Linked DNA regions of Homo sapiens. The protein of the gene in region 2 purifies or fractionates together with the protein of the main gene of each other region. This does not show direct contact. Each region holds a gene or a part of one and is shown on either strand. Other genes may lie near its edges.

What was found.
Region 1: the proteins of MOV10 (region 2) and LARP1 purify together in Homo sapiens (affinity purification with mass spectrometry, with the first as the bait; one large-scale study listed by BioGRID). This does not show direct contact.
Region 3: the proteins of MOV10 (region 2) and CEP135 purify together in Homo sapiens (co-immunoprecipitation; one large-scale study listed by IntAct). This does not show direct contact.
Region 4: the proteins of MOV10 (region 2) and SUGP2 fractionate together in Homo sapiens (co-fractionation; one large-scale study listed by BioGRID). This does not show direct contact.
Region 5: the proteins of MOV10 (region 2) and HNRNPA0 purify together in Homo sapiens (affinity purification with mass spectrometry; one large-scale study listed by BioGRID and IntAct). This does not show direct contact.
Region 6: the proteins of MOV10 (region 2) and ZNF326 purify together in Homo sapiens (affinity purification with mass spectrometry; one large-scale study listed by BioGRID and IntAct). This does not show direct contact.
Region 7: the proteins of MOV10 (region 2) and POP1 purify together in Homo sapiens (affinity purification with mass spectrometry; one large-scale study listed by BioGRID). This does not show direct contact.

The regions. Positions count from the first base shown.
Region 1 is NC_000005.10:154,757,939-154,762,378, reverse strand, and holds part of LARP1 (la-related protein 1), read right to left. Parts: intron 1-4,440. UniProt on the Homo sapiens protein: RNA-binding protein that regulates the translation of specific target mRNA species downstream of the mTORC1 complex, in function of growth signals and nutrient availability.
Region 2 is NC_000001.11:112,681,159-112,684,658, reverse strand, and holds part of MOV10 (helicase MOV-10), read right to left. Parts: intron 1-3,500.
Region 3 is NC_000004.12:56,007,334-56,011,773, reverse strand, and holds part of CEP135 (centrosomal protein of 135 kDa), read right to left. Parts: intron 3,448-4,440; coding exon 3,392-3,447; intron 2,040-3,391; coding exon 1,871-2,039; intron 363-1,870; coding exon 252-362; intron 1-251. UniProt on the Homo sapiens protein: Centrosomal microtubule-binding protein involved in centriole biogenesis. Acts as a scaffolding protein during early centriole biogenesis.
Region 4 is NC_000019.10:19,012,798-19,017,237, forward strand, and holds part of SUGP2 (SURP and G-patch domain-containing protein 2), read right to left. Parts: intron 1-4,440. UniProt on the Homo sapiens protein: May play a role in mRNA splicing.
Region 5 is NC_000005.10:137,744,348-137,748,286, forward strand, and holds the end of HNRNPA0 (heterogeneous nuclear ribonucleoprotein A0), read right to left. Parts: 3' UTR 1,304-3,939; downstream 1-1,303. UniProt on the Homo sapiens protein: mRNA-binding component of ribonucleosomes. Specifically binds AU-rich element (ARE)-containing mRNAs. Involved in post-transcriptional regulation of cytokines mRNAs.
Region 6 is NC_000001.11:89,997,558-90,001,997, reverse strand, and holds part of ZNF326 (DBIRD complex subunit ZNF326), read right to left. Parts: intron 3,889-4,440; coding exon 3,844-3,888; intron 1-3,843. UniProt on the Homo sapiens protein: Core component of the DBIRD complex, a multiprotein complex that acts at the interface between core mRNP particles and RNA polymerase II (RNAPII) and integrates transcript elongation with the regulation of alternative splicing: the DBIRD complex affects local transcript elongation rates and alternative splicing of a large set of exons embedded in (A + T)-rich DNA regions.
Region 7 is NC_000008.11:98,157,209-98,160,670, reverse strand, and holds the end of POP1 (ribonucleases P/MRP protein subunit POP1), read right to left. Parts: intron 3,055-3,462; coding exon 2,400-3,054; 3' UTR 836-2,399; downstream 1-835. UniProt on the Homo sapiens protein: Component of ribonuclease P, a ribonucleoprotein complex that generates mature tRNA molecules by cleaving their 5'-ends. Also a component of the MRP ribonuclease complex, which cleaves pre-rRNA sequences.

The DNA.
Region 1 (4,440 bases), on a different chromosome or scaffold from region 2:
CGGAAAGGCACAGATAAACCCTCAGAGTGAGTAATTACCAATATCTGGCTTTGGAATGCAATCTTCTGAAATAAAAAAAAAAACTTACATCTTACCTCTGTGTAGGAGGTTTTTTTGGTTTTTTTGTTTTGTTTTGAGATGGAGTCTTGCTCTTGTCACCCAGGCTGGAGTGCAGTGGCACGATCTCAGCTCACTGCAACCTCCGCCTCCCCGGTTCGAGCAATTCTCCTGCCTCAGCCTCCTGAGTAGCTGGGACTACAGGCACACGCCACCATGCCTGGCTAATTTTTTTGTATTTTTAGTAGAGACGAGGTTTCACTATGCTGGCCAGATTGGTCTTAAAACTCCTGACCTCATGATCCGCCCGCCTCGGCCTTCCAAAGTGCTAGGATTACAGGTGTGAACCCCCGCGCCCAGCAGGACTTTTTCAATTCATGAACTGTACTGCCCCATACTCAACAGCAATTTGACGCTCTAAACAACCTCAGCACCGGGATTAGCCCCATTCTGTGAATAAGGAAAACAGGTTAGACAAACAATCTAAGGTCACAAAGTGAGAGCAGAGAGAAGTACCCTGCCCATGTTCTAATTTAAATCCCATCACCTTCTCCCTTCACATTGATGTGCTGTTTCCCATGTTTTCACCAGCGAGGTACCAAAACTTACTTCCTTTCTTGAATCCCAGGCAAGGTAAGGCCATCCTCTCTCCTGGCCACTCCCTTAGATCACTCTGGACCAGCCAGGGAGGTTTTTGAGTCTGGACTGAGGCACCTGCTGAACCTCCAGTGGCCCCAACACCCTAATTACTCCCTTTGAGCTGTCTTGGGTTTTGCAAACAGGGGAACTCCCATCTGCCAAGCTCTCCATCTTAAAGAGGTTTTGTAGTTTCAGGCCGGCTGCTCCTCCTCCTCCTCCCACCCTGCCCACCTCCCAGAAAAGAGAATGGGTGCTCAGTAACAGCTATTAAGATTGCTTACTCCAGTTCAGGTCCCACTATAGACAGTGGGTGGGTCAGCAGAAAGACCCCGACCCTCAGGAGGTTCAGAGTTCAAGAAAGCTTGTGACTACCCTCTACCTCCCAAAGGGCCAAAAACCACTTCCTAAAAACCTTCCCCTACCTGGCAGGCACTCACTTCCGGGTTAGTATGAAACTCAAACTACCTGTGCAAAAGGAAAGGGGCCAGGCCAGCTGAAGGCTCCCGATGAAAGCTGCCTCCCACTCTCCCCTTCAAAGGGTGTCCTAATTGTGACCTTTCCTTAGAAGAAGAGAAAGTGATTCACACTATATTGCTTCTTGGCCTTTTGGCTAAGATCAAGTGCACAATAGGAAAAAGCCTTAAGTCTTATGTAATAGACTAACCTAACAGTTCTTAGGTGGGGGTGCACAATATATCCAGTTACACAGTTAAAAACAATCATAATACCATTATCACCCCTGACAAAATAAGATAATTTCTTAACTTAGTCAATTTCCTCAGTTGTCATCAAAATGTCTTTGGACATTTGGTCAAGAATCAAGATCCAAACAAGATCCACAACAATGCACGACTGATGTCTCAACTTTCTTCATCTGTAACAGTTCTTCCCTTTAAAAAATGCCATTTATTTATTGGAAATAGTGTGTCTTGTAGAATTTCTCACATTTAGAAACTGAATAACTGCCTACCTCATGGCTAATTAGTCTGTTCCTGTAGCCCCATTTCCCTATAAACTGGCAGTTGGATCTATGGTTCTGTTAGATTTAGGTTCAGTTTTTATTTGGTGGAGGAAATTTTCAGGCAGTGCTGTGTGCTTTCAGACACTGTAAGGCACATAATGTCTGGCTGCTCCATTATACACCCCCAAGCCATCGACTTAGGCTCCTGAAGCCAGAAGAGTTTCTCCAGCCTCCAGAGAGCTTGGATTCCTAATCACAACGCAAATACAAAGCTACACATATATAAAGCTCTACTTTGGTTTCTTTCTTTTGTGGGGAGGGAGTTTTAGAAAAAAATTTTTGATACTAGAAAAATTTTAAGACATTTAGACCTAGTCTAATACCCTGATTTTACAGACGAAGAAACAGGCACAGAGAAAGCAAAGCGTTTGCCGGTGTCCACATTGCTGGTCATGAGCAGGATCAGAAGTAGCTCCTAGGGCCGGGCGCGGTGGCTCACGCCTGTAATCCCAACCCAAAACTTTGGGAGGCCAAGGCAGGTGGATCACCTGAGGTCGGGAGTTTGAGACCAGCCTGACCAACATGGAGAAACCCCGTTCTACTAAAAATACAAAATTAGCCGGGCATGGTGGCACATGCCTGTAATCCCAGCTACTCTCAAGGCTGAGGCAGGAGAATCGCTTGAACCCGGGAGGTGGAGGTTGCAGTGGGCCGAGATCACACCACTGCACTCCAATCTGGGCGACAGAGCCAGACTGTCTCCAAAAAAACAAACAAACAAACAAACAAACAAACAAACAAACTTAGCCCAGCCTATCTTAAATGCACTCAGAACACTTATATTAGCCTACGGATGGCCATAGCATCTAACATAAAGCCTATTTTAAGCGTTTAATGTCTCATGTAATTAATTTATTGAATACTGTACTGAAAGTGAAAAACCATGGTTGTATGGGTACCTGAAGTACAGTTTCCAATAAATGTGTATCACTTTCCCAACAACATAAAGTCAAAAAATCATAAATTGAACCATCATAAGTTGGGGACTATCTGTACTCTCAAGTCTCACGGCACTACATGTGCACCAGCCACAGCAAACTTTCAGTCCAGTTAGGCTGGCTTTTCCTCATATCCCTGAGAGCACACGTGCAACTCCCCCCAAAGAAAATCTTTACAAAAGGCAAACTAAAAAGTTAAAACTTATTTTTTTAAAATTCATCTCACCACATTCCAAAGCAAAAAATAGCTAATTCTTAAGAGTCAGCAACCTTTAAATTATCCATCCATGCCCTTCATGTCTGTGGATAAGCAAAAGTCAAGTTTTAAGGAGACAGATCCCATACATTTCACGGAGTACTTATATAACACAAGAAAAGGAAAGATCTGCATTCACCAACCCCATCATATTACAGGTAGAGAAAACCAGAGACCCAGGGAAAAGTCCCACCAAGACCCAGAGTAAGTAACAATGTCTACCTGCCAGGCACTGGGCTAAATACACTTATCATAACAATGAATGCTGGTAATACCCCCATGAGGCAGGTGAATCATAAATACCTATTACACAAATTAAGAAGGTGAGGCATAGAATGGTTAAATAACTTGCCCAAGGAAGCACAGCTAACAAGTGGTACAGTGGCATTTGAACCCACTCAGTTTGACCCCAGAATATTCGCTATGTATCATCTCTTAACTTAGACGTCTTGGATCTTATACTTAAAAGGGGTATGGCTAGGATAAGACAAAAATTTTAAACATTTAAAAATACTCTGGGGAGGGAGGGAGATCTAAAAAACCAAAATGCAAATCCCAAGACTTAAAACTACAAATGTAAGACTTGGACGCTTAAACCAGAATACAGAACCCCACAAGAAAGTAGAGATATCACGAAACATATTTTATTACTAGTTACTGCATGTGTCCCTTAAAGAACTAAAACACCAACATTTGAGCCAAAAGTAAGGCTAAAAATAGGCATTTACAGCAAGCTTTGGAAAGCTTTTAGTTTGCTTATGAGGTACTCATTTCTGTAGACTCCCAAAAACATGTGCATCACAGAACACAAAAATTCCCAAGACCACACAGCCACTCCACTAGTGTCACGTTTAAATTTGTCGAAGCTGTAAATAAAACCAGGGCTGGAAAAGCACTTCAGAGATCCACGTAGGCTCCAGAGAAAGGGTCATCATCTAGCCTTACCAGACTGACAACCCAATCATAGAATTCTCTCTCAAAATGCACACAAACCCTAACAACAGGCTTAGAGAGAGAAGCTACTGGATTAACTTGAGTTAGGCTGTCAAAACCTATTCCAAAGGTTCTAAACCAACAAGTAGACACTCTCTTGCCTTAAGATTCCAAAAAACAATAACAGAGCAAATCTACCCTTACTCAGAATTTTGCTTTGGGCACTTAAAGCAAGTCAGCTTCTCCACTCAGAGGAAAAGGTGAGATGCCAGCCAAGCTGTCTTCTTCCCACGATCAATAACCCCAGTGACGCACACTATCAAGGGCTCCTGGACTTACACAAAATGCCAGCTCAGGCACCCAATACCACCTGATGTCACGGTTGATTTAAAACCCACAAGGTAGGTTCACCATTAGCCAAGCCAGGATGAGTAGCCCCATTTAAAAGGAGTGCTCTCTCCCGGGGATGATTATACCCTTTTGAGTTTAAAGAGGGGAGAAGGACCAAAGAGTGTTTTAAAGTTGTTTTCCTTCACTCTGTGGGTGGATAGGAGGGACTGAAAGAAAACGGAGGTTTCAGCACTGTCTTTTGCATA
Region 2 (3,500 bases):
AGAAGAGTCAAGTATTGCCATCTTTTGGGAAAACAATCTGGCAACATCTACAAATATTTAAAATACAGGTATCCTTTAAAACCCAGGGACTGTCCGGGCACGGTGGCTCACGCCTGTAATCCCAGCACTTTGGGAGGCTGAGGCGGGCGGATCACCTGAGGTCGGGAGTTTGAGACCAGCCTGACCTGCATGGAGAAACCCATTTCTACTAAAAATAGAAAAAATTAGCTGGGCATGGTGGCAGGCACCTCTAATCCCAGCTACTCAGGAGGCTGAGGCAGGAGAATCGCTTGAACCCAGGAGGCGGAGGTTGCAGTGAGCTGAGTTCGCGCCATTGCACTCCAGCCTGGGCAACAAGAACCAAACTCTGTCACAAAAAAAAAAAAAAAAAAAAAATCCCAGGGACTGGGCATGGTGGCTCACGCCTCTAATCCTAGCACTTTGGGAGGCTGAGGTGGGAGGATCACTTGAGCCCAGGAGTTTGATATCAGCCTAAGAAACATAGCAGGTCCCTGTCTCTACAAAGAATTAAAAAAAAAAATTAGTCAGGTGTGGTGGCACACCCCTGTAGTCCCAGCTACTCAGGAGGCTGAGGTGTGAGGATTGCTTGAGCCCAGGACTTTGAGGTTACAGAGAGCTATGATTGCAGATCTGCACTCCAGTCTGGGCAACAGAGCAAGACCCTGACTCAAAAAATAAAATAAAATAAAATTTAAATTTAAAAGATAAAACAAAACCCCACAAAACCCAGTAACACTGTTCCTGGAATGTGTCCCATGGGAAGAAAAGTACCAATGTATAAAGACATATGTGCAAGGATACTTACTGCAGAGTCACTCACAGTGGTCAAGAATTGAAAATTAAACAAATGCCCATCAACAGAGTGAAAGGTGAACACATTGTAAGCACTCATACCGTGGGATATTATGCAGCCATTGAAAAGATGTACCACACCCACTCAAATGGCTAACATTTAAAAGGCTCACAATACGAAACACTGGTAAGGATACGGAACAACCAGGCCAGGCACAGCGGATCATGCCTGTAATCCTAGCACTTTGGAAGGCTGAGGTAGGAGGATCACTTCAACTGAGAAGTTCAAGACCATCCTGGGAAACATAGCAAGACCCTGTTTCTACAAAAAAATTAAGAAATTAGCTGGGCCCTTGAGGCTGCAGTCTGCCACAATTGTGCCACTGCACTCCATCCTGGGTGACAGAATGAGATTTTGTCTCAAAAAAATAAAAAATACAACAACCCAAACTCTCATGCATTGTTTGTTGGTCTGTAAAATGGTTTAAGCACTTTGGGAAAAGGTCTAATAGTTCCTTGTAAAACTAAACATATGCCTATCCTATGACTCAAAAATTCCACTCCTAGTTACATCCCAAAAGAAATTAAAATGTAAGTCCACAAAATGACTTGTATAAGATGTTCCTGGCTGGGCACGGTGGCTCACGCCTGTAATCCCAGCACTTTGGGAGGCCAAGGCGGATGGAACACTTGAGGTCAGGAGTTCGAGACCAGCGTGGCAAACACAGTGAAACCCCGTCTCTACAAAAAAAAAAAAAATTAGCCAGGCGTTGTGGCAGGCACCTGTAATCCCTGCTACTCAGGAGGCTGAGGCGGGAGAATTGCTTGAACCTGGGAGGTGCAGGTTGCAGTGAGCCAAGATCATGCCATTGCACTCTAGCCTGGGCAACAGAGCAAGACTCCGTCTCAAAAAAAAAAAAAAAAGATGTTCCTAGGAGCTTCATTCAGAAGAGCCCCAAACTAAAAACACTGTCCATAAACAGGGGAATAAATATACAAACTGTGATTTGGATTCATACAATGGAATACTACTAAGTGATAAAAAAGAAACTACTGATACATTGTGGATGAATCTCAAAAACATTACGCTAAGTGAAAGTTGCCTTACACAACAGTACATACTATATGATTCCATTAAATGAATTTCTAGAACAGGTACTGTCATGAAAAAATCAGAGCAGTGGTTGCTTCTGGGTGAGTAAGAGTGAGGACTGACTAGGAAAGGGCACGAGGGAGCTTTCTGGAGTGATGTGATGTTCTGTACCTCAACAGGCGTTTGCACACAGATATATGCATTTGTTAAACCTCACAGAACAGTACACTTACAATTTGAACATTTTGCTGTTTGCAAATTTTGCTTAAAGGCCCGGCACAGTGGTTCATACCTGTAATCCCAAAAGTTCAAGACCACCCTGCACAATATAGACAGACCCCATCTCCACAAAAAATGAAAAATTAGCTGGGCATAGTGGCACACGCCTATGGTCCCAGCTACTCAGGAGGCTGAGGTGGGAGGATAGCCTGAGTCTGGGAGGTTGAGGCTGCAGTGAGCTATGTTCATGCCACTGTACTCCAGTCTTGACAACGGAGCAAGACCTTGACTTAAAAAAACAAAAAACCAAAACCCAAACAACAACAACAAAAAACCCATGGCCGGGCGCGATGGCTCACGCCTGTAATCCCAGCACTTTGGGAGGCCAAGGCGGGTGGATCACCTGAGGTCAGGAGTTCAAGACCAGCCTGGCCAACATGGTGAAACCCCGTCTCTACTAAATACAAAAAATTAGCTGGGCATGGTGGCGCATGCCTGTAGTCCCAGCTACTTGGGAGGCTGAGGCAGGAGAATTGCTTGAATCCCAGAGGCGGAGGTTGCAGTGAGCCAAGACTGCGCCATTGCACTCCAGCCTGGGTAACAAGAGCAAAACTGTCTAAAAAAAAAAAAAAACCCATAAACAATTTTTTTTTATTTCTAGGCAAACATAACATAAATTTTGAACTCTAGCTGATAATAATCACGCTAAATAATTAATAATAATTTGTTGGAGTGAAGTGTACTGATGTCTGTAACTTATTTTGAAATGCATCAGGAAAATTAAGATGACTTGCTAAATGAATAGCGGGATGGATCTATGGGCAGATATGTGTAAAACGTTAAAAGAAATCTAGGTAAGGGTATGTGGATGTTCACTGTAGATTCATTTCAACTTTTCTTTATGTTTAAAATTTATTATAGTATGATATTGGGGAAAAAATCCCAACAATGCATTAGAGGTCTATGCCATATGCCTACGAGTGATTCCCATCACACAGTTGAGAGAGTAGGACGTGGATGATGTGAATAACATGATTCTTTTGACAGAGTCTTGGTCTGTCGCCCGGGCTGGTGTGCAATGGCGCCATCTTGGCTCACTGCAACTTCCGCCTCCCGGGTTCAAGTGATTCTCCTGCCTCAGCCTCCCGAGTAGCTGGGATTACAGGCGCCCGCCACCACGCCCAGCTAATTTTTTGTATTTTTTAGTAGAGACGGGGTTTCGCCATGTTGGCCAGACTGGTCTCAAACTCCTGACCTCAGGTGATCCACCCGCCTTGGCCTCCCAAAGTGCTGGGATTACAGGTTTGAGCCACTGAGCCCGGCCAAACATGATTCTTTTTAAATAAAACAATGACTAAAAAAACCACCCTGATTG
Region 3 (4,440 bases), on a different chromosome or scaffold from region 2:
CTAAATTAGTAATTGTCACTTCCTGGAACACCTATGTCATAAACACATACACATACACAGCATTCTGTTCTAATTTAGGAAGCATTAGATATCTGTGCAGGTACCACACTAAAATCTATGGGAAAAATAGAAAAAGGCAGTAGACAAGATCTCTACTTTAAAATGTTTAATATCTAATTGTAGAGGCACATGAAAAAGTTAAAAAAAAAAAAAACCTCAGTCTTAAATCCAACCTAAATAATATTTTTCACCTTGGCAGCCATTAAGCTCTCCCATCGTGACACCTCTGTTATGTATTTATGAACTCTGCTCTTCATTTCTTCTTTTTCTTGCACTGCTGCTTCCAATTCCAATGAGATTTCCTACAAATCAGAAAATTAAAGACAATCTAAAATGAACACAACACCAAATAAATTTTATTTATATTCAAATAATTCCTTTGGAATTGGAGAATAAGATAGAGTAGGGCAAAAGGAAAACTGTTCCTAAGTGTTATTTTCACATATTTTTCCTGGCTGATCTTGCCTTTTAAAATATTTCAGACAGAGTCTCATTCTGTCGCCCAGACTGAAGTGCAATGGCGTGATCACAGCTCACTGCAGCCTCGACCTTCTGGGCTCAAGCAATCCTTCCACTTCAGCCCTCCGAGTAGCTGAGACCACAGGCACATGTCACCATACCAGCTAATTTTTTTTTTTAATTTTCTGAGATGAGGTCTCACTATGATGTCCAGCCTGGTCTCAAACTCCTGGGCTCAAGCAATCCTCCCACTTTGGTCTCCGAAAGTGCTGGGATTATAGGCGTGAGCTACCACGCCTGGTCTGATACTGACTTTTTAACCAAACTTTATCACACATTTCCCATAATAGTCCTGATCATGTATCTGGCATTTACACTAAAGGCTAGCTATGGTCAGGGGTTGACATTAAAAAACATTCATATTTCATCAATATGCTTTATGCTGAATAATACGGAAAATAATTTTTTAAAAACGTAAGATGTTTAAAACAGTAAAATCACTGGTTTTCTCAGTACAATCTTTTAAGAAACCAGCACGAACAGAACTAACACCTTTCAGTACTTGCCATTCTAAAACACTCATTCATTTATCTACAGGTGTATTTTGGAGCCGACAGAAGCTTGCACAAATAATTAAAACCTATCCTGAGTCTTTAAAACACAGAAACTTTGCTCTGGGAGGGATGCTGATGTCCTCGCCCGGTAGGGTGACAATGATTTCTGACATACAGAATTTCATGCTCCCACCTTTAGGTTTCCTTGCAACAAAGACCAAAATGGTGAGAAGACCAGTTGCACCCATTAGACACCCTGTGATATATAGCAGCATTCTAAGCTATGTGTTTTTTTTTTGACAGAGTCTCACGCTGTTGCCCATTTTTTTTTTTTTTTTTTGGATGGAGTCTCACTCTGTTGCCCAGGCTGGAGTGCAGTGGCACGATCTCGGCTCACTGCAACCTCTGCCTCCAGGTTCAGGTGATTCTCCTGCCTCAGCCTTCCGAGCAGCTGGGATTACAGGCGCATGCCGCCAGGCCTGGCTAATTTTTGTATTTTTAGTAGAGATGGGGGTGGGGGGGGGGTTTTCACAATGTTGGCCAGGCTGGTCTCGAACTCCTGACCTCAAGTGATCCACCCACCTCAGCCTCTGAAAGTGCTAAGATTACAGGTGTGAGCCACTGCGCCCGGCCTAAGCTCCATTTTTTAATACCCTGATAAACACCATTGTCCTTAATGAATTATTTATGTCACTTATTTTTATATCATCAGATTTTAGAAAAAATATTTAGAGCTTTAATATTTAGCAAACAATGGAAAGTATAAAACTATCAAAATTTATGCCTTGTGTTCATACTTGATTTTCTCTTGCCATTGTAGCCAGGTCATCTTGCAGTCTTCTGTTTTCCTTAAAAGCGATTTCTCTAGATCTTCCTACTTCATCGAGTTCTTTGTGAGCTGCATCAAGCTGGCGCCGGAGGCTGTTTATCTCACGATCTCGATTAACCAATGTTTCTTTCAGCTGGCTGTTAAATGAGTGATGTGAAACTAATAAAGAAAACTTTTAAAAACTGTAGTTCATTTAAAAGAAAACTTATAGTCTAAGTATACTTAGAATACAAATATACTGTGATTATAAGAAATTATAACTGCTGCATTAAGAGACCTATTAATTAGGTAGAACAGGTATTTTAGAGCTCTACCAATAATTACATGCAAATGAAGTTAAAAAAAAATGTTATTCCAACAGTCAAGTAAACACAGAAAACTTTCAAGTGTTAAAAGTTGAATAGCTTGGGGGCTGGGCGCGGTGGCTCACGCCTGTAATCCCAGAACTTTGGGAGGCCGAGGCGGGCAGATCATGAGGTCAGGAGATAGAGACCATCCTGGCTAACACGGTGAAACCCCGTCTCTACTAAAAATACAAAAAAAAATAGCCGGGTGTGGTGGCGGGCACGTGTAGTCCAGCTACTTGGGAGGCTGAGGCAGGAAAATGGCGTGAACCCGGGAGGCAGAGCTTGCAATGAGCCGAGATCGCCCCACTGCACTCCAGCCTGGGCAACAGAGCGAGACTCCGTCTCAACAACAAAAAACAACAACAACAACAAAAACAGTTGAATAGCTTGAGCCCAGGAGTTCGAGACCAGCCTGGGCAATATAGGGAGACGTTGTTTCTACAAAAATTTTTTTTTAAATTAGCTGAGCGTGGTGGCACACGCCTGCAGTCTCAGCTACTCAGAAGGCTGAGGTGGGAGGATCACCTGAGCCTGGGGAGGGTGAGGTTGCCGTGAGCAGAGATCTCGCCACTACACTCCAGCCTGTGCGACAGAGTGAGACCTTGTCTCAAAAACAAACAAACAAAAAGTAAAGCATAGATTCAATTGGCAAATATTTATTAAATGTTTATAATCCCCACTATTATATAAAATGTTAAGGGTATGTAAAATAAATATAATAAGTGACTTTTTTCTTGAAGTGGCTTACAATCTGCCTAGAGAGACTATACATAAAATGTAAAATTTTGTGACAGTGCTCAAGATAGGTTTAGATGGAGAATAAATTCGAGATTGGCTACTAAAGTAATTTTAGGTTTTAATGATTAGGCTCCAAGTGGCATAATTATAGTAAAAATAAGGAACAAATAGGTATATAGGAGAATAGTTAATAAGACATAAGTGTTTAGATGTGGATGACAGAAAAGGAGAGGTTAAAGAAGATAACATTTTCAAGCTGGAGACTGAGAAAATGATGCTACCATTGACAAAAATGGGGAAATTGAAAGGGAAATTCTTCTATTGCTGCAATGCTACTGAATAGATAAAGCTGTATTCACTGAAAATCTCCTAAAAAGCTGGATGTAATTTCATTAATGACTTACTTCACAGATGATTCACACTCTGAGATCATTATCTTCATTTGAGCAACAGCTTTTTCCTATAGAAATTACAAAAATGTGTAAGATTTTAAACCAAAATGTCTTTAGCTAAATTTATGTAACTTGTCATATTCATATAGTTCAAATACACAGCTCAATTATATAAAGTATGCCTAAAACAAAGCTCCAAGTAAACATATCTCCATGTCCCAATCATACTTCACATACTGGCATGTTTTGACCAACCCTTGAATAGTTTTCTTGAGTTTGCTTTAATGAGATCTGATAAAATCACATTCTAGAAATAGACAAAATCACATTTTGAAGATTAACATTATTTGAAAAAAATGACATTTAAACATTAGAAAATATGGCCCTAGGTCTTAGAAACTTCTACATGGCCAATAATAACTGCATATTTGGGAAACTTCTGGGTCTAAAATGGTGGTGTAGTCACAAGCTGACTTCAATCCTGACAAAGAAAACCAAAAATAAATATACAATGCTAACATTATCATCAGCACTATCCCAGGACTCAAATATGAGGACGAGTCAGTTCCTGGGCCACAGAGACGTAAAAAACCTCTGAGCAGACAGTGACAGAATCGAATTTTCACACCTGTGATGCCCCTTCTCTCAATCTGGCTGGCACCAAGTACCTGGAAAATCTCCCCTAACTCATGGTTTCTACACCGGAAAAAGTGAGATTGAGGTGGACAATCAGCTTTTCTACTATCTTGGGTAATTTGGCAGGAGACCTGTTCCATGCCTCAACACACAGGAAACATCATGGATACCTGAAGGGAGACCTGTCCCTGAGGATACCCAGAGACTAAGTGGGGATGTAGGACTACCTCCTCATCCCTGGAAACTCTTCTCTATTACTCAGCCAAAGACACCCAATCAGAGTGGTAGTTCAGTAACAACATGCTGTAGGAGGTACATTCCACAGGTCCCCTGGGCACAAACCCTTAGCTAGCCCTTCCACACTGCTGGGACATCCCCTTTGGGACCTCCCCCATCCCAGATGGGCAGGGGTCTGAGCATTCACT
Region 4 (4,440 bases), on a different chromosome or scaffold from region 2:
AAACATTAATGTCTCCTACCATGGTTTTGGATTCATCCAATTCCTCTTATCATGGTTTTGGACTTAAATGATTTTTTTTTTTTTGAGACGGAGTCTCGCTCTGTCACCCAGGCTGGAGTGCAGTGGCGCAATCTCGGATCACTGCAACCTCTGCCTCCTGGATTCAAGTGATTCTCCAGCCTCATCCTCCCGAGTAGCTGGGATTATAGGCACCCGCCACCACACCCAGCTAATTTTCGAATTTTTTTTAGCAGAGATGGGGTTTCACCATGTTGGCCAGGCTGGTCTTGAACTCCTGATCTCAGGTGATCTGCTCACCTTGGCCTCCCAAAGTGCTGGGATTACAGGCATGAGCCACCGCACCCAGCTCTGGACTTAAATGATTTCTAAAGGTTGTTTATTTACATGGCTCAAAGCTATGTAGTGCAGGCACCAAGATTCACAATCTATATGTTCGTGATGACTTTCCCTTTTATCAGGAACTTCTTTTGCTCCTTTTAGTGCTGTTCTCCTTAAAGTCTTTTTTGCCTAAACAATTCTCTACATCCTTTCTTTTTGGTAGCGTTCACCTGCTATGCAATTTCCCATCTCTGTGTTTTCCAATTCCTGTGTTTTTGCTTCTTTCTCTCTATAGTAGTACGGAAGTTATAGACCTCACTTCTGTTCCTTTAATGGCTAATCGACACACATACCTAAACTTTTATTTTGTATCAATATCCAGAATTACCCTTTAGCTCTATCCTCATGTCAAACAAGACAAAGGCCTGCACACCTACCTCCCTCCTTCCCCTTGTGCCTCACATATTTAGATCATCTGGGATTTTAGTTTCTTTTATTTCACCCCAAACATCAATTATTTAGATTTTATGTTAACTTTGGGGTGCTTGGACAATCCTGCTGAGGCTAGACCACAGGGATTCTTAGCCACTTGTTTTCCTGAGTGTGTGAACACGTAGGACCTGGTGGGCTCTCCCTGGAGAGCATGGTCAGGGCTGGCCCACTCCCAGGGGACAATTTAGAAGATGAGAGAAAACAAAGTATGACATATTCCTTCAGCTTTATATCCTGCACTGTTGTTATCATTTTCTAGGCTTGATGCTTTGCACTCTCTCATAGAAAAGGACGGAAGCCTGCCCCTTGGTGTTCCAAACAAGGAAGTAAAGCCATAGTGGATGTGTCTGTCTATACTTCTGATTGATTCATTGATTGATTTGAGACGGTGTTTTGCTCTTGTCGCCCAGGCTGGAGTGCAGTGGTGCGATCTCAGCTCACTGCAACCTCTGCCTCCTGGGTTCAAGTGATTCTCCTGCCTCAGCCTCCTGAGTAGCTGGGAGTATAGGCAGCCACCACCATGCCCAGCTAATTTTTTATTTTTAGTAGAGATGGGGTTTCATCATGTTGGCCAGGCTGGTCTCAAATTCCTGACCTCATGCGGCCCACTCGCCTCGGCTTCCCAAAGTGGTGGGATTACAGGTGTGAGTAACCGCACCTGGCTCTTCTGACATCTTTAGTGCACGACACGAGGCAGGTCACCTCGGCAAAGAGGCAATGGCCAGTTCTGTCCACAAGGCTCCAGTGGGAACAAATCATGCTTGTGGGGTGTGAGGGTGGAAGGTCTCAAATCTCTGCTGGCCCTCAGAGGGTGGAGATAAGAAGCCCTTCTTATATCTGCCTCCTAGAGGTCTGACTTTTTCACTTGCTAACTAATAAAAAGAATTTATTAAGGCTGGACATGATGGCTCATGCCTGTAACCCCAGTGATCTGGGGGATCGCTTGAGCCCAGGAGTTAGACACCAGCCTGGGCAACAGAGCAAAAACCCATTTCTTAAAAAAAGAAAAAAAAAAAAAAGCTGATAGCTGAATGCGGTGGTGTACTCCTGTAGTCTCAGCTACTTGGGAGGCTGAGGCAGGGGGATTTTGTGAGCCCAGGTTGAGGCTGCAGTGAACTATGATCATGCCACTGTGCTCTAGCCTGGGCAACAGAATGAAAACTCATCTCTTTAAACAAAAAAAAAAAAGAACTTATTAATCCACATATATCTTCAGAGAATGTCAATGGTCATGCATAAAACTGTTCAGTCAAGAAAAAGCAACATAGGCTTATTAAGAGATACAGAGGTAAGCCAGGTGCGGTGGCTCATGCCTGTAATTCCAGCGCTTTGGGAGGCCAAGGCAGGAGGATCATGAGGTCAGGAGATTGAGACCATCCTGGCTAACATGGTGAAATCCCGTCTCTACTAAAAATACAAAAAAATTAGCCGGGTGTGGTGGCAGGTGCCTGTAGTCCCAGCTACTAGGGAGGCTGAGGCAGGAGAATGGTGTGAACCCGGGAGGCAGAGCTTGCAGCGAGCCAAGATCCCGCCACTGCACTCCAGCCTGGGGGACAGAGCGAGACTCTGTCTCAAAAAATAAATAAATAAATAAATAAATAAATAAATAATAAAAAGAGATACAGAGGTAGCCGTGAGAAGTAGTTTGAAGAACTAAGTGACTGCCTTCAAGGAGTGGAACATGGAAACAGGTCACAGCAGAAACATTTGGCTTTTCATTATGCGTTCAATTGACTGTTTTGTTAAATACAACATACAAGGAGCATTTTGACTTAAGAATTCAAACATGCACACCAGAAACCTAAGTTTAGCAGTTTCTTTACTTATTGCTGTGCTTTTGTATCACACTCTTTCCTCTTACAGTCTCTTGGTAATTCCTTCTCTTTTTTTTGAGACAGAGTCATGCTCCGTTGTACCCAGGCTGGAGTGCAGTGGTGCGATCTTGGCTCACTGCAACCTCTGCCTCCCGGGTTCAAGTGATTCTTGTGCCTCGGTCTCCCAAGTAGCTGGGATTACAGGCGCCTGTCACCATGCCCAGCTAATTTTTTGTATTTTTATTAGAGACACGGTTTCACTATGTTGGCCAGGCTGGTCTCGAACTCCCAACCTCAAGTCATCTGTCCCCCTCGGTCTCCCAAAGTGTTGGGATTACAGGCGTGAGCCACTGCACCCAGCCAGGTAATTCCTTGTGAAGGAGTTTTTGGATGATAAAGTCTCTGGGACCAACTCCTAAATCTTTCCTTCTTCAGGATCTATTCTATCAGCCAACCGCTGAGATTTTTATTTCAATCTATTTTTCATTTCCAAGATCCTTAATAGAATCGTTTTCATAGCAACCAGTGTCTGTTTCATGGATACAATATACTCTTATTACCTGAGACTATTCATTGCACATACATATTTATAGACTACACCTCCTCTTTCTCATAGTGACTCTGTCTTCTAGGGTGTCAGGAGTTGGTTGAGTTTGGTGATGCTCTTTCATGATACTGGTTTACCTCAAATATCAGTTCTTAGTTTGATGCTTATTTCTGGGACTACAGGCACCCGCCACCAGGCCCGGCTAATTTTTTTTTGTATTTTTAGTAGAGACAGGGTTTCACCGTGTTCGCCAGGATGGTCTCGATCTCCTGATCTCGTGATCCACCCACCTTATAGGTGTGAGCCACCATGCCCGGCCGCTTATTTCTGATTTTGTACCCTGCCCTGCCCCCTATCCAAACATACCCCTGACTCTGGCTTCCGTCTGCTGCCCCTGGTTATCAGTGGTCATGAGACCACTGGGCCATGTGCAGGGGTCATGGGGCAGAGGCACCAGCCCCCAGGCCTCTCAGGGCCTCCTATTCCTCCAGCCTAATCACCTTATCAACCACCTGTAAAGTGCCCCTGGGCCTTCTAAGTCTGGATGCCTTCTTACCAAGAGGGTCGGTATCTGCTTGCATCTGTCAATCTGACAATCCTTCAACATGCACACTGGTTCAGACCACAGACCCTGGATTTGAATCTCAACTCTGCCTCTTACTAGTTGTGGATCCTCAAGGCAAGAGGGCTCTTGGAGCCTCAAAGTTTCTTGTCTGTAAAATAAGCATAGCAAGAGACCTGCCTCCCAACGTTGTTTATGAGGATTCAACCAGCTAGTGCTTAAATCAGTAATGTGCTTAGAACAGTACCAACTGCACAGAAGGCACAAGTGTTTATTAAATAAAAAGTATTCAATAAATGATGCTGGGACAATTAGGTTATTTGGGAATTTTTAACTTTTAAGTTACATGCCTACCTCATTCAATACATGAAAATAATCCAAACTCAAGAATTTTGTAAAAATAAAACCACAATAAGCTCCAACCTTCCCCTTGGTAAATCATGGTGGGTAGGACCAAAGACATGGAAATGTATGCCTTTCAAGCATCTTTAGTAATTACAACAGCAAGCATAGCAAGTCCAGTATGGGTACAATCTGACTACCAAAAAGGGCACACTCAGGAGGTCAAGGCTGCAGTGGGCTGTGATAGCACCCCTGCATTGCAGCCTGGGCAACAGAGTGAGATCCTGTCACTAACAAAAAACAGAAAACAAAAGAGGGCACAGCACACCTACAGAGTAGCAGTG
Region 5 (3,939 bases), on a different chromosome or scaffold from region 2:
CCCACTACTTTAATATACTTACATATTTATTATGTTAAATAATATATTTTTTCATTACAATTTCTATTGTGGTAAAATATACATTAAATTTGCCATTTTAGGCCAGGTGTGGTGGCTCACACTTGTAATCCCAGGATTTTGGTAGGCTGAGGTGGGAGGATCACTTGAGCCCAGGAGTTCAATACTAGCCTGGGCAATATAGCAAGACTCCATCTCTACAAAAAGATTTTTTAAATTAGCTAGCTGTGGTGGCGCGTGCCTGTAGTCAGTTCTAGCTACGGGGGAGGCTGAGGTGGGAGGATCACTTGAGCCCACAGTTCGAAGCTCCAGTGAGCTATGATCATGCCACTGCACTCCAGCCTGGGCACCAGAGTAAGACCCGGCCTCCAAAAAAAAGAAAAAAAGCCATTTTAACCATTTTTAAATATACGATTCATCAGCATTAAGTACATTCATAATGTTGTATAACAATCACCACTATCCATTTTCAGAACTTTCTCAACATCTGAAAAGAAATTCTGTATCCCTTAAACAGTAATTTCCCATTTCTATCTCTCTGAATTTGCCTACTCTGGGTACCTCATTTAAGTGCAATCATAGTATGTCCTTTTGTGCAGGCTTATTTCACTTGGCATGTTTTCATTCATCTTGTAGCATATACCAGAAATTTATTCTTTCTTATGGCTGAATATTCCATTGTATGTATATACCACATCTTGTTAATTCATTCACCTGATAACACTGAGTTAATATTTCACCTTTTGACAGACCACAGTTAACATTTCCCTAATATTTGACATTTAGTTTCCAATTTTTTGCTACGTCATAATTTTTATGCAAAGACTGTTTTCCTTTCAATAAATTTTTCAATAAACTGTTCTGTTAAGGTTAAATTCCTAGTAATGGTGTCCCAGAGCATATGAATACTTTAATAGTTCTTAATAAATAAATCCATAATTTTACTCTCCTCATTTGCCATTTTTCATAACCTGATGGACAAATTCCGGTCAGCAGTTTGTTACAAATGTATAAAGTGTGACAAAACCAAATGGAGGGAAGCTTTTGGAGAAAGAAAAGGAATTAACAAAGCAGAAACAGCTCAGAAGAGCTCTCCACTAGACAGAGCTGGCTGACTTCTGTGACAGGTTGCCCAACTGCTCCTTCTATCCATAACCTGATGTTTTCCAATTAACTTGGTGACTCTTTGAAAAAAAAAAAAAAAATCTGCCTGTGTCAGGGATCCCCCGGACCAAGCCCATATTGAGATTTGATAGAAGGGTTCACAAAACTCAGCACTGCTAAGTATCGTACTCATGGCTAAAGTTTATTACAGTGACACAGTAAGTGTACACAGTTGGATCATACAGGAAAAAGACATAAGCAGAATCTGGAGGAATCCATGTGCAGGCTTCTTTAGGATCTCTCCCTCCCATGAAGATTCACACAGAGCACATTTTTATACGAGGGATGTTTCTGCCTAGGGACTCAGTATGCAAGGTTTTCATTGGGAGTTTGGTCATATAGACATCCTTTACCTGGCATGTACCAAAATTCCATACTCCCAGAAGGAAAGCAGGTGTTTAGCATAAATCATCTTGTTTGAACAGTCTAGGTACAGTGAACCACCTTTATTAGTGAACAGTGAGAATACCCCTAAATCCACGTGTTCAGATAAGGGCCAACCATGCAAGTAGGCCACTCTAAAAGATACCAGCCTCAGGCCAGATATAACTTTTTCTGCACACCCCCAATTCAAGATTCATTTTGGCCAAAAAGCAGCATCTCTCAACATATATATGTAGATACCTATGGTAGAGTTGAAAAGATTGTGGATCACTTATACCTTATCCAAGTAGTTCTGATTGCTTTCCTTATAAACCTTCATTGAAAGCAGCTGTATGAAAGGAATAGGAATTTTGGGAAACACATCTTTTAAAATTCAAATCAGATCATGGAACTCCTCTGCTCAAAACTGAAATGGTTCACCATTCATTTAGTGAAAACCAAAATCCTTACAACAACCTACAAATCCCTACATGATCTGGCCCCTCTGGCCTCATTATTCCTTTCCTCCTCTTCCTTCAGGTCCAACAACCCTGAACAATTTGCATTTCTTCAGAGGCCAGACACAGTCCTGCTTCAGGGCTTTTGCTCTTCCTAATCCTCTACCTAGAATGCTCTTCCCATACCTATATTGCTCACTCCCACATTTCCTTCAAGTCTTTGCTCAAATGTCACTTTCTGAGAGACCTACCCATACCACCTATTTTAAAGTATGCTATCCTCACAAACATCCCTTGCAACAATCGCCATTCCTCACCCTAATTTTTTCTATACTTCTCATCTTCTAACATACCATATAATTGATTATGTCTTATTGCCTGTCTCTCCCCAGTAAAATATAAGCTCTTTGAGGGCAGGGATTTTTGTCTTTTTCTTCTGTATTTCCAGCACAATCACCCAGCAGAAGAGTAACAAATTTTAACTTGACATACTAAGAAACAGGGAGGCACTGAATTTAGGGATAGTAACCTAGTGCAAATAGCTAGATCTTCACGTTTGGTGGTGTGGGAAGATCAAGTCATAAGAAAATGTGAAAGAAGTTTTTTTTTTTAATTTCACTGAAGAGATGACCACAGTATATTCAGTTATTGAAGAGTTTTAATAAAAGGAACTATTTACAAGGGTATGGGCACAGTTAAGGCAAATCAACAAGGTTTGAACCTTCTTGGGACTAGAGAATCTAGCAATAGGAGACAGTTACGAGAAGCCAGAAAAGACCTAGAGCTATAAGAGGGCCACTGGAGCAGAGCTGTGGCCACTCACAATCTCTTGCTAAGTATATGAGAAAGAGAAGGAGCAAATATTTCAGCCTCACTTTTCTATCACTGTCCAAACCCACCATGAATAAAGCCAGAAAAGAGAGTATGCAGTTCTTTATTTGTCAGCCTCCCAGGAACACAGAACAAGAGAGATAAAGATGGAAAATAGATCAGGAAGGGCAAAAAGAATATCCAGCACAATGGCCATTTTGTAAAGCTATATGCGCAAGACACAATGCTTCAATGTGCTACCAGCATCTTCAACTATGTCCAAATCTTCCCTCTAAATCTTCTCTTCCTATTACCAGTGGCATCACCATCCTCTCACACAGTAATTTTGATTAATCTACTCTCTCTTCCTCATTCTTCATATATCCAAATATTTGTCAATTATGCTTTCACAACTTACCTCAACTTCTTTGTCAGTCTATTTCCATTGCTCTTTGTTCATGCTCTCATTCTCTTACCTGGTTAACATCAGTTGTCTTAGCAAACTTGCCACTTTGAAACATCCCCCACTGCCATTTATGTTACTCAGTGCTACTGGACTAATCTTTGTGAATTAGTTTCACTACCATTATTGTTGCTCAAAAACCTTTAATGACTTTTACTGCCTACCCTAAGTCCAAACTCCTTAGCCTACTACTCAAAGACCTCAGTAACCTGGTTCCAACTTCATTTTCTCAATTTATTTCTCACAACTCTCTTTTATCTTAGTACAAATTAGACATTTGTTAGCTGGAAGTCAATGAAGCTTAGTAGAAGGAGCGAAACAACTAGAATTGGTCAAACTTGGATTCAACTCTCAGTTCTACCATGTCACCAGCTGGGGGTCCTTGGGAGTTACTTTTCTGGCATGAGATTTAGCAACCTTATCTGTGAAGGTTACTGAATGATGCAATGAGAACATTTGTAAATGTACCTAGTGTTTGGCATCCAATATGCATACTTCTCCAAATACGCTCCATGTTTCTGCCTATCTGTCCTCCACCTAAAATGCCCTCTTTCTCCTCCCACCTTCTCTATAAGACCTATCTTTTAAGGTTAAATGTTATATGCTCCACAATGCCTCTCTTGATCCTTCTTCCTACCTGAAGTCACCTCTCCTCAACACTCA
Region 6 (4,440 bases), about 23 Mb from region 2:
TAATAATTTAAATCAAATATATTCTATCACTTGGATCACTCTATCATACAAATAATACGCTCAAAAATGCTAAAACTCATTTTTAATTAAAACACAAAGCAGCAGCTGTGACATACTGGGGGAAAAAAAACTGACCTATGGGCTGGGCAAGGTGGCTTACACCTGTAATCCCAATCCTTTGGGAGGCCAAGGCGGGTGGATCACCTGAGGTCAGGAGTTCAAGACCAGCCTGACCAACATGGTAAAACTCCGTCTCTACTAAAAAACACAAAAAAAATTAGCCAGGCATGGTGGTGGGTGCCTGTAATCCCAGCTACTCAGGAGGCTGAGGCAAAAGAATTGCTTGAACCCAGGAGGCGGAAGTTGCAGTGAGCTGAGATCACACCATTGCACTCTAGCCTGGGCGACAAGAGAGAAACTCCACCTCAAAAAAAAAAAAAAATTAAAAACTGACCTATGACCAAAATAACTAACTATGTGACATTAAGTCTTGAGTGGGACTACTTTTTAGCAACTCTACACTACCAGCACCCTACTACAAGATACCAACATCTACCACCTAGGTTATTGCAAAAGTCTCCTAACTGGTTTTCCTGCTCCACTTTTGCTCCTTTGCTGTTTTTTCTGAAGACAACAGCCACAATAATTCTGACAAAATGTTAAGTTCAATCATGTTCAATGCTCAGTAACCTCCAATGGGTTCCTCTTATTCCAAGTAAAAGCCAAAGCTTAAAATAACATCTAAGAACCTATACCAGTGGTTCTTAACTAGGGGAGATTTTGCACCCCCTGGGGACATTGGCAATGTCTGAAACATTTTTGGTTGTCACAACTAGGGGGCAGATGCTACTGACATCTGGCATATTATAGAGGCCAAGGAGGCTGCTAAATGTTCCACAATGCACAGGACATCCCCCTACAACAAAAAATTACCCAGTCCAAAATGTAAGAAATTTGAGAAACCCTGCCCTACATGATATGCCCCATCACCTCTTAACTTCATTATCAATTACATACACCCCTGTTCACTCCACTACTACAACACCAGGCCCCTTGATGTCTCTAGAACACAAGGTGTATACCCATTTTAGCAGCTGCTGTTCCCTCTGCCTGGAATGCTCATTCCCCTGAACCTGCACTGTTTACTCCCTCAACTTTTTCAGGTCTTCACTTGTATTGCTTCTGATATATAAGCAAATTATCTTTGATTTTCAATGCTTTCTGGCTCCACCTCACCACTCTAACCTTGTCTTAAGATTGCTCAGCAAAAAATCATCTGTTCTAGTCAAGCCAGCGTTAAGGTCTTGCTCTGTCACCCATGCTGGACTGCAGTGGCACAATCATAGCTCACTGCAGCCTCCACCTCCTGGGCTCAATCGATCCTCCCATCTCAGCCTCTGGAGTAACTGGAACTATAGGGGGGCACCACCACGCCTGGCTAATGTTTTTAAAAAATTTTTTTGTAGAGACAGGGTCTCACTATGTTGCCCAAGCTAGTTTCAATCACCTGGCCTCAAGCAGTGCTCCTACCTCAGGCTCCCAAAGCACTAGGATTATAGGCATGAGCTACCACACCCTTTTCTCTCCCCTTTTCTATATGCTATTTATGTAAAAGGTATTATGAAGCAAGAAGGAAAACATGGAGACACTGGAAATACATTTTCCTTCCAAGAAATAGTGTGGGGAAAATCTGTATCTTGCCATGTTTTCCAATGCCTTCTACTTCATTTCACTTCCTAGAAAATACAGTGCTAACAATAAAATATATTTTTGGCTTTTTGGTACCTACACACTGTTTATTTCTTAAAGCCCGTAAGTCTTCTTCTAAATGGCTTCATGGCTTGCATACTCACTCATCTTAAATCTATGCTCAAATGTCATCTTTTTGGTGAGTCTTTCCCCAGAGACTCTAAAATTGCAACACATACAAGCACACACACACATTTATCCTCCTTCTCTATGTTACTCTCCCTCGCAATGATCATCATCTAACATACAATAAATATTACTCCCTTTTTCCCCTGTGGACTAAATTATGACATATATATTATTTCTTATCTTGTTTACTATTTCATCCCACTAGACGGAAAGCCTCACAAAGGCAGGAATATTTGTCCATTTTGTTCACTGCTATATTCCCACCTCCTAGAACGATATCTGATGCCCAGCAGGCACTAAATAAATATTTGCTGAACAAAGTCAAATTGAATCCCTGAAATTAAGTTCCTCATTTGTAAAATATAGATAATCTAGACCTAGAAGTACTGTCAAGCATTGGTCTTTAATCAGAGGTGCCTTCCAAAATCATTCAGAGTAGTTTTGCACAACATACACAGCCAAAGACCACTTGCCCTGAAATTAAGATTCAAGAGGTATAGGCTATGTGTGAAAAGAGAGACTTTGAAAAAGCTCCCCAAGAGATTCCAACAATCACCCTCAGATGAGAACCAGTTATAACTAAAATTAAGAGAAAAAATAAAAGTCATATTAGATCTTTTTGCAACACTGTATACTAATTAATAAATAAACATCTGGCCCTGCATGAGTCTGCATTTCAAGTCCTATGTTTAGACATTAAATCCAACTATCCAGTAAATCCTAGATGGCCTTTTATCATTACAAACTCTCTCCCTCTCCCCCTCCCTCTTCCCCTCCCCCTCTCCCTTGTAAAAGCACTAGTCATACATTCCAGTTTAAAATCCTGGATTCATTTTTATTCAACCCTCTCAATTTTCTACCCATTACTAGTCAGCCTGCAAGTTCTGCTAATTTGCTCTTTATTTTTAAGATTACTACTACTATCACCTCCCAAGTTCAAGGCCTTAAAATCTTTATATCAAAACTTATGAAATGGCTTTCTCGTTAATTTTCCAGTTTTCAATATAACTTACATGTGGATGCAAATTAAACTTCCTTTGGTAATTTTCAATTTCCAGCTCACAAATACATTCTTCAGTACTAACTCCCTATATGTTAAGCCTTTTTAGCCCACATGAAATCCAAAGTTTATCTTAATCTTTAAAGATAATGAAATAAAAATTAACTGTTCAGTAATTATTCCCATAAATGGCATAGTCTTTAGTATACATTTGCTTCAGTTTTACTTTGTGAATATATTCTATTCTGTACGAAAGTTGGATTTTACATTTCTCTGGCAATCATGATATTTAATGCCTCAAGTCCTTCATATGTTTTTTAACCTGCATTAATTGTTCTGTGTTCTTTTTTTGTATTATTATCTTGTGTGGCAGGGCCCTAACTCTAATAACTATCAAAATGACATCCAATTGTATTCTACATACCTCTCATGATTCTATCTAGTTCTATAGTCACAAGTCTAATGTCATGCTCATGTCAATAAACAATCAAGCTTCTTCATGTGCTCCTCTAGACAGCTCTTTATATACTAACACATTTGGACACACTGAAGAAAATGACCTCAAAAACAAGGTCAAAATGCATTACAATACAAGCTATATAGAACCAAGCCAATAATCCACTTAGTCTACATTACTCAATACCAAAGCCTCTAATTCAACCAAAATAACTCAGCCAGTGTCTTGTGATTCATCACTCAGAATGTAGTTAGGCCCTTTGGAACACATTAAAATAATCATAATTCAAACAAAATGGACCAAAAAAAAAATCAAACTAATGTGAATAACCCCTAACATTTTCTGATAGCACATTCCCCAATTCAAATACTATATATAGTAAGACAATATTAACACATAAATGATATATCAAGAACCAAAACAAGGACTGAAATAGGTAGAACTGGCCTTTTACATTGATACTATATTTTTATGCGCATGAAGAGAAAAGCTGAAAGAGGATACTTACCATTAAAGCCCTGATAAGTATTCCTGCAGGCGGAGTGTGTGTAATCTATGAAGACACATTTAACAAAAAGGAATTAGTGTGATATTAGCAATAATTCAAAATTATATGCCGATCCAGTAAAAAACAAGCACAATTTTTAAAATGACATTAACCCAATTATCTGCAAAACTGAGAATAGTTAAAACAAATAATTACCAATACTCCATTCCAGAAAATGTATCTCTTTTTTCTTCACTATCTCCCCAAATGGTAGGTTTATTATCCAAATTATGGTAAACATTAGTTTACAACACCTGATACATAATAACAGCCAAAAGAGGGGATTCAGCACTGATTTGTACCAAGTAACACAAAGGCAGATAGATTAAATTATGTATCAAATAATGCAAAAGCAAAGACATCTGAGAATTGTACGTAACATGAAATTTTTGCTAAGTTAATTTCTTTTACCATTTAATTTGCTCTTTAAAGATTTCAAGATCTTGGCCGGGCACGGTGGCTCACGCCTGTAATCCCAGCACTTGGGAAGGTGAGGTGGGCGGGTCACGAGGTCAGGAGTTCGAGACCAGCCCGTCCAATATGGTGAAACCCTTTCTC
Region 7 (3,462 bases), on a different chromosome or scaffold from region 2:
TCCTGCCTCAGCCTCTCAAGCAGCTGGGATGGCAGGCATGCGCCACCATGCCTGGCTAATTTTGTATTTTTGGTAGAGACAGGGTTTCACCATGTTGGTCAGGATGCTTCAAGAACCCTAAAAGCATTGCTCCCTCAACAAGAGGACAAGGGCCACATTGCACTTATTTGGTAGCTATGTAGCTCTAGTACAGCATGGCAGGCACTTGGAAGGATCAAGATCAACACGCTAATCAATTCAACTGCCAGAAAGTAAGCCATTCCCCTATCAGTCTTTTTCATAAGGAACATGGATTCTTTACTGCCTCTGCAGAGTCTGTTAGTTTTTCAACGTATCTTCTGTGAAACTAGTGTTCTCTGGACAATAGGTATGCAAAAACCAAAAAAGGTACGTGTGTGGGAGTCTGAAAGACAGATTTCTTTCCTAAAGAGCTTTGCAGAGCTTTGACTCTGCAAGTATTCATTGTGAATCATAATAGGAGGATACCATATATAGCTTTTCCCATATTTATTTAGCCATAAAATACTTTTCTCCAGGAACAGCTGCAGGGACTAGTACTCCCAGGAATACATTTTGGGAAATGCTAATCTATCTTTCTGGTGCGCAGCTCTTTGACCTACCACCCACCAGGCAGAGTGGCTGCAAACGTGCCCTGTCCCCTATAATGAGGGCGGGGCAGCAGGCCCTAGGCAGGGCTGTACAGAATGAGGTTAGGTGACCACGCAGCACACTCAGACTTCTGTCATCGAGTGAGCTCAGCCACAAATGAGGTGACTGAGAGCCCAGAAAACAAATAAGGAATGGTCCAATAAATATAAATATTCACAACTGAACATCAGGTGACATTTTCATTTATTCTGTTTACAGATGCCACTTAGTTACACTGTTTTTTTTTTTTCAGTCTCATCTGGGTTGGATCCAAAGACATTCAGAGGCATGGTAAGAGGCAAAGCATCAGACATCTCATTGGTGGCAGGTACTTCCTGACTACTGTACCACCTGCTGTATCCTTCCCCACCTCATCACCCCCAAAGCCATTTAGTGCCAAATGCTACAGTAAAAACCCAATGCATTTACATAAAATAATGCCTAACTGCATATTTACATTTTTTAGAAAAAAAATCCCATTAAGCTCTTCTAGAAAGTTATGGCAGGAAAGGTAAGGACCAAGGCTATGAGCAAGCCATATGTGGAAACTTAAAGTAGATGAGCACTGAGTTTCTCCATAGTTGGAAAAAAGCCACACTGAGCCCACTCTTCCTGTGAGGCAAGATGAGACCTTCCTTTTATACCCTGTTGAGAATCTCAGGTGGACAACGTGACTGCATGAGTGTTGAAAGGCAGCTTGCCGGCTTAGTTATCACCTTGCAGAGGTAGCTATGCACTACACAGCCACACTGCCCAAAGCGCGCTACTAAGAACACTGGTCCTACAAAGGGCTCCTTGTAAGAGAACTTTAGGAATCACAAGTATTTAGAAAATACTATACACTATCATTTCCTTCCTAGAGATCCGCAATGCACATTATCACATGGAAGTTTCCAGAAGTTCTTTCATAAAGAAATGCTTAACTTTATTTAACCTAGAGTTTCCATATCAACCTGACCTTGGAATCTCTTACTTTTTTAGGTGACACATATCATAGAACATATTCTGAGAAATGCTCCTCTATGGCTTTGAGAAAATCTTTGCAGAAACAAAATAATAATAATTTTTTACTTAAAAAAATTAAGTAACTAGTAGGATCAAGTGTTGGTCAACAACAAAGAGATCAAAGAGTCAGGAAGTCCACGTCATAGACCCCCACTTTCTAATTCCAGCCTAGCACTGACGCCATAAACTGTGCCTGCCTGAAAACAGGCAGAAATCAGTTGTCCATGATTTCTCTCTTTAAGGCTTGAGTTGTTCGGCATGGAAATCACAGTACAGAATTGAATGAGGTCCATCAGGAGCCCATATTTCATGTACAGAGGCCAAGCGTCTTCTCTTGTCTTCTGCTATAACAGTGAAATCATTAAACATCTATTGTTGCTTATCACATGACTATGAGGTTTTTCAAATAGACCTGACAAGCCCTTTGTTTCTAACAAAAAAAGGGGATGATAACTCGTAGAGCTTCTCATTATTTTCAGCCACAACTACACAGACCAAGAGATCATAATACAAAGCTTTTGGCCAAATAATTTAAAAGTATTACAGCAAGGACAGGGAAAGATGAAAATCAATGACATTACTGGAATGATGTAAACATTTCATCATCTGCATAATACATAATTTTTTATTCTTGTTTCCAGGGAGTTTCACATGATATTTTAAAGCAGAAGCAGATTCTCCACATGTAGAACTTGGCAGACAATAATAACGTATTATCTATGCCCTGCTGGGATACAAGCACGCATTCACACCTCAATAGCAATCCTCGCAAATCGATACTGCAGAGAGGCGGGAGGCCTCAGTAGCACTAAGCCCCTCTGCGCTGCAGGCTGGCTGGACAGCATATCCAGCAAGCCTGTCAAGCTAACAAACCCCAGGGCTTCTCCACAGCCAACAGCCATGGAAAAATCTCCCTGAGTCACAAAGCCTAGGAGAGTTCTGGAGCAGTGCAACGTCACACGCGGCAGAGGGCCTGACCACAGCCCTAGAGTCAGAGCTTCCTGCCCAGCCACGGGCTCTTCCCCCGCCGGGCCATCAGAAGAGGCACGTCCTGGCTTCTGCCTCTTCTCCCTTTTCTTCTTCTCTTTCTGTTTCAGGATCTTGCTCCTGAATGGGTCACTGTGTTTGGATTCCTGGGGCCCACAGTAATGCCAGTCCTCATGGAGCTGGAGGAAGTCCTCCTTGGCTGGGACACAGATCATGGTGTGAGGCTCGGGGCTGCCCTTGCTGAGCAGGGACAGGCTGACCCAAACCAGGGCCCTGGGGAAGTGGCCCAAGATGGACAGGCAAGCCTCTCTGGTCAATCCTTGCTGGCCTCTGCCGGGAGCTCGCCGGCCTCCCCGACTATCCTCAGAACTGGGCCCACACCAGGCTGACAGTTGCTTCAGTAATTTTCTACTCCTACATGAAGTTGGAGACATACGTTTGAGGATATTTTGTTCCAGAAAAAAATATGCAATCAGAAGATTAGACACTGCTAGAATTAATTTGATTCTTTTATACTATATAAGAATCAAAACTACAATTTTTTAAAAATTAGAAATACACTGTAGTACATTTTAGTACTTATATTTTTCTTTTTATGTGTTTGCCATTCTGAAACTCAGGGACTAAAGATTTAAGAAGTTGAAGGCAGGGAAAACAAGACAGTGAGATAGAATCTAGGATTGTAATCACAGTGAGGGTGAAAATAAAGAGCCACTAAGATTTCAATGAGTAAAGGAACTGTAAGGGACTGTTACATGTAAAGTAAGAAAGAATGATAGGAAATTATGAGGCTACTATACGGAAAAGTAAGCACAAGGCTAG